Linked DNA regions of Homo sapiens: region 1 is linked to region 2. The links come from fine-mapping of genetic effects on gene expression. A gene starts in region 2. The other region holds a variant in brackets. All regions are shown on one strand. Distances are from middle to middle.

What was found. PIP is the estimated chance that this variant, and not a neighbour inherited with it, causes the effect.
Region 1: its variant is fine-mapped to the expression of CCDC18 in neutrophils (BLUEPRINT, PIP 0.95).

What each region holds. Positions count from the first base shown.
Region 1 is chr1:94,138,435-94,141,347 of GRCh38, reverse strand. No RefSeq gene overlaps it. Among named protein-coding and RNA genes, the nearest start is that of ABCA4, 19 kb to the right of the region's middle. The variant C/T (reference allele first, on the strand shown) is at 1,251.
Region 2 is chr1:93,179,616-93,182,528 of GRCh38, reverse strand. It overlaps CCDC18 (coiled-coil domain containing 18), which reads right to left and starts at 1,805. Exons shown (of 29, transcript NM_001378204.1): 1 at 1,677-1,805. TMED5 (transmembrane p24 trafficking protein 5) reads left to right here and starts at 2,116. Exons shown (of 4, transcript NM_016040.5): 1 at 2,116-2,475. The coding sequence starts at 2,287. RefSeq lists enhancers at 1,506-1,715, 2,586-2,735 and a silencer at 1,776-2,055.

The DNA of each region.
Region 1 (2,913 bases), 960 kb before region 2:
GATTATAGGCGTGAGCCACCGTGCCCAGCATCACAGATATATTTTTATATGTAAGAAGATGGACCTCCATCTTAAAAGTTCAATCATGTCATCAATGATTTCAAGACATGAAGTAGTAAATTCATCAACAGTCAACATTTCTTATCAAAGTAATAATACCACCATTTAACACTTCCTTTAGACTGAGCACCGTGATAAGTGCTTCCTTTCATATAATCTCATTTAATCACAGCCCTCTGATGTAGGGGTTCTCAACAACCACTATTAACAATTCTATGCAACAGATATTATTATTCTCACTTTACGTATAATAAAACTGATAAAAATGGAATTTTTAAAAGCTTTCCCCATTTTGTATACCTCATAAGCAGTAGAATAGGGTTCAAAACATAGGTGTAGCGCCTGGTGGAGTGGTTCACATCTGTAATCCAAGCACTTTGGGGGGCCAAAGCAGGAGGATCGCTTAAGTTCAGAGGCCAGCCTGGGCAACATAGTGAGACTTAGGCGCAGTGGCATGTGCCTGTAGTCTTGGCTGAGATGGGAGGATCACATGAGCCCAGGAGGTCAGGGGTACTGTGAGCCATGATTGTACCACTGCACTCCAGCCTGGGTGACAGAGTAAGATCTTGTCTCTAAAATAAATAAATAAATACCAAGTGTGTCTGACTCTAAAGCTTATGTTCTTAACCACTGTATTAGTCTGTTCTTACGCTGCTGATAAAGACATACCCGAGACTGGGTAATTTATAAAGGAAAAGTTTTAATGGACTCACAGTTCCACATGGCTGGGGAGGCCTCACAATCATGGTGGAAGGCACAGGAGAAGCAAAAACACGTCTTACACGGTGGCAGGCAAGAGAAGTACCAAAGCAAAAGGGGAAAAAGCCCCTTATAAAACCATCAGATCTCGTGAAAACTCACTATCATGAGAACAGCACGAGGGTAACCACCCCTATGATTAAATTACCTCCCACTGGGTCCCTCCCACAACACATGGGGATTATGGGAACTACAGTTCAAGATGAGATTTGGGTGGAGACACAGCCAAACCATATTGACCACCAAAATCTTTTTTTTTTTAGTTAATTAATTTATTTATTTTAATTATACTTTAAGTTTTAGGGTACATGTGCACAACGTGCAGATTTGTTACATATGTATACCTGTGCCATGTTGCTTGCTGCACCCATTAACTCATCATCCAACATTAGGTATATCTCCTAATGCTATCCCTCCCCCCTTCCCCCACC[C/T]GACGACAGGCCCTGGTGTGTGATGTTCCCCTTCCTGTGTCCATGTGTTCCCACTGTTCAATTCCCACCTGTGAGTGAGAACATGCGGTGTTTGGTTTTTGTCCTTGCGATAGTTTGCTGAGAATGATGGTTTCCAGCTTCATCCATGTCCCTACAAAGTACATGAACTCATTTTTTATGGCTGCATAGTATTCCATGGTGTATATGTGCCACATTTTCTTAATCCAGTCTATCATTGTTGGACATTTGGGTTGGTTCCAAGTCTTTGCTGTTGTGAATAGTGCCACAATAAACATACATGTGCATGCGTCTTTAAAGCAGCATGTTTTATAATCCTTTGGGTATATACCCAGTAATGGGATGGCTGCGTCAAATGGTATTTCTAGTTCTAGATCCCTGAGGAATCACCATACTGACTTCCACAATGGTTGAACTAGTTCACAGTCCCACCAACAGTGTAAAAGCATTCCTGTTTCTCCACATCCTCTCCAGGACCTGTTGTTTCCTGACTTCAATGATCGCCATTCTAACTGGTGTGAGATGGTATCTCACTGTGGTTTTGACTTGCATTTCTCTGATGACCAGTGATGATGAGCATCTTTTCATGTGTCTTTTGGCTGCATAAATGTCTTCTTTTGAGAAGTGTCTGTTCACACCCTTCGCCTACTTTTTGATGGGGTTGTTTGTTTTTTTCTTGTAAATTTGTTTGAATTCATTGTAGATTCTGTATATTAGCCCTTTGTCAGAAGAGTAGATTGCAAAAATTTTCTCCCATTCTGTAGGTTGCATGTTCGCTCTGATGGTAGTTTCTTTGGCTGTGCAGAAACTCTTTAGTTTAATTAGATCCTCTTTGTCTATTTTGGCTTTTGTTGTCATTGCTTTTGGTGTTTTAGACATGAAGTCCTTGCCCATGCCTATGGCCTGAATGATATTGCCTAGGTTTCCTTCTAGGGTTTTTATGGTTTTAGGTACTACATTTAAGTCTTTAATCCATCCTGAGTTAATTTTTGTATAAGGTGTAAGGAAGGGATCCAGTTTCAGCTTTCTACATATGGCTAGCCAGTTTTCCCAGCACCATTTGTTAAATAGGGAATCCTTTCCCCATTTCTTGTTTTTGTCAGGTTTGTCAAAGATCAGATAGTTGTAGATGTGTGGTGTTATTTCTGAGGGCTCTGTTCTGTTCCATTGGTCTATATCTCTGCTTTGGTACCAAAACAGTATCATGCTGTTTTGGTTACTGTAGCCTTGTAGTATAGTTTGAAGTCAGCTGGCATGATGCCTCCAGCTTTGTTCTTTTGGCTTAGGATTGACTTGGCAATGCGGGCTCTTTTTTGGTTCCATATGAACTTTAAAGTAGTTTTTTCCAATTCTGTGAAGAAAGTCATTGGTAACTTGATGGGGATGGCATTGAATCTATAAATTACCTCGGGCAGTATGGCCGTTTTCATGATATTGATTCTTCCTGCCCATGAGCGTGGAATGTTCTTCCATTTGTTTGTATCCTCTTTTATTTCATTGAGCAGTGGTTTGTAGTTCTCCTTGAAGAGGTCCTTCACGTCCCTTGTAAGTTGGATTCCTAGGTATTTTATTCTTTTTGAAGCAATTGTGAATGGGAGTTCACTCATGATTTGGCTCTCTGTTTGTCTGTTATTTGTGTATAAGA
Region 2 (2,913 bases):
TTCTGCGCAATCTTAAAATTACATTCCTCTTTCAGATCCCATTTACCTTTTTCACTGTAGCATCTCCTTCAACGCCCTTCTTAGCATTCTGATCCCATCCCAAGTTCCAAAAGGTTAAAAGTCCTGTGCATTACGTTCAGGACCGCAATGTACTTAGAGAAGCTCAATATTTTGAATGAATTAACGAATACTAAACTGTCCTTCCTTCCCTCATCCAGTTAGAATGGTATGTTACATTTATTCCCCACTCAAAAATTCTCAGATGTAGGGAGGAAGATTAAAAAGAAAACTCCCACCTTATGGAAAGAAAGTGGCAGGAAATTAAATGAGATACTATGTAATCTTAATAGACAAACTGGTTCTATCCTCTTTCCCTTTTTTGTTTCCACAAATTTGCTTCTGCTTAAGTGACAAGACTCTCGCAGACAAGTCAATAAATCAGGTCCCCATCCTGCTTTACCTATTCAACATCTCTAGCTCTCTGTAGGATGGTGAAGGAGAAAAGGGTAGAGAAAATTGGGCAAATTCTATAATACCATTTGGTACTATATATTTCATCTTAAATCAGGTTTTAGTTCAACATCTGTGTATTGCCATGCAAGAAATAACTCCCAGTCCGGGCGCGGTGGCTCACGCCGGTAATCCCAGCACTTTGGGAGGTCAAGGCGGGTGGATCACGAGGTCAAAAGTTAAAGACCAACCTGGCCAAGATGGTGAAACCCCGTATCTACTAAAAATACAAAAAAATTAGCCGGGGGTGGTGGCGAGCGCCTGTAATCTCAGCTACTCGGGAGGCTGAGGCAGAGAATTGCTTGAACCTGGGAGGCGGAGGTTGCAGTGAGCCGAGATCGCGCCACTGCACTCCAGCCTGGGCGACAGAGTGAGACTCGGTCTCAAAAAAAAAAGAAAGAACTCCCTAACTCTTCTGCAGTAGCAATGAATATATTTGATACTAAAATGTTTTCATTTTCCTAGTGGGACATTTACTGTCAAATGAATGTCCTTAACTTCAATTTACAGTAGTTACCCAAAAAAGGCTATCTTCACTGACTATGCATACCTAGAAAAGCACATCATCCTACTCACCGACCTTAACAACATCATCTTTCGGCCCTAATTAACAATGTGTTTGTAGGTTTGCACACGCACACCCATCAAACGAAGGACAAGTGTTCTTTTATACCCTATGTATGTGATACAATGGGCTGTAGTCGAAAAAGATTCCTCATTTTGGAAAGAAGTCATAACTTTATGTAGTAGTCTCCTGTCTCAAGATCGCTTGACACAGCTAATCTTACATCCGTCTGAAAGAAGCGGGGGCGGGGGTGGGGGACGGAAGTGACAGTTTCCTCTTTTTTTTTTTTTTTTTAATTTTATAGAGACAGTGGCTCGCCATATTGCCAAGGCTGGCCTCGAACTCCTGGGCTCAAGCAATCCTTCCGCCTCGACATCCCAAAGTGCTGAGGTAACAGGCGTAAGCCACTGCGCCCGGCCTCCTATTTTTCATCAAATAAAATACAACCGTTCAGAGCAGCATGCTCAGCAACCACGAGGACCAGTCCCAGCGCATCCAAGGTGCCGGGAGGGAAAGGAACAGAACTCCCCCAGGTAAGCCGGTTTCCCCACGCCAAGGCGCAGTCGCTCACCACCCAAATCGTCGCTGGGGAGAGACCCACCCGGCGACTGCGCGCTTCGCACTCGAGTCTGCGTTAGGAAGCCTCTGACCCTTTCCCGGGCCCCTGCGCGTGGAAGCCTCGGACACAACTCGGAGAACCAGCGAACCCCGGCAGCACAGAATTCGAACCGCCGCGGGAGCCGTTGGGACGCGCCTACCCGGTCACTGCCCCGCCCCGGCGCAGACTGCGTGAGGCGCCGCCGAAGGCGCGGGGCTTGCCGGGGATCGTGGTCGGCGAGCGCGCCCGAGCCCACTAGCGGAGCCCGCCCGGGACTACATTTCCCACAATTACCGCCATGATGCCCATTGGTGGGGGAAGCCATGGGAACCGGAGGCCGTCAGGGGGAGAGGCGGGCGGCGCTCACGCCTGGCCTGAGGGGGCCGAGACTGAGGCGGTTGCGGAATAGGACTGCTAGCCCCGCCCAGAGTCCCTACCCTTTGGAGAACTGCGCTTCTCTTTCGGAGGGAGTGTTCGCCGCCGCCGCGGCCGCCACCTGGAGTTTCTTCAGACTCCAGATTTCCCTGTCAACCACGAGGAGTCCAGAGAGGAAACGCGGAGCGGAGACAACAGTACCTGACGCCTCTTTCAGCCCGGGATCGCCCCAGCAGGGATGGGCGACAAGATCTGGCTGCCCTTCCCCGTGCTCCTTCTGGCCGCTCTGCCTCCGGTGCTGCTGCCTGGGGCGGCCGGCTTCACACCTTCCCTCGATAGCGACTTCACCTTTACCCTTCCCGCCGGCCAGAAGGAGTGCTTCTACCAGCCCATGCCCCTGAAGGCCTCGCTGGAGATCGAGTACCAAGTAAGTGCGGAGGATAAACCAGCCTCCTTCCTTTAACCCAGCTGCACTGCGTTGTCGCCTCTCACCCGTTTAGAAACTTCTGGTGGACGGCCCTGGTGGTGAAGAGGCGAGGGCCGTTCAGGAAGCCAGCCCGCTCCGCGCAGGCGCGCGAGGCGAGGCGAGGCTCTCGCTGGGGCCGGGGACCCAGAACTTAGGCTGGACCTGGAATTGATGACTACCCGCCTTCTCCCCTTTCCTCCGGTGGGAAGGAGGCCAGAACTGGTGATGTCGCTGGCTTTTCTCTTTGTTTCCTAATTCGCCCACTGCTTTTCTTAGCCACTACACGCTCTCATACTGAGAATTTCACAATGCAGAACTGATACACGTTCTCCTTCATCATTGGACAAGGTGATGACACTTGTTTGAATCACCCCCACCCCTTTCACACAGTTCAGATGT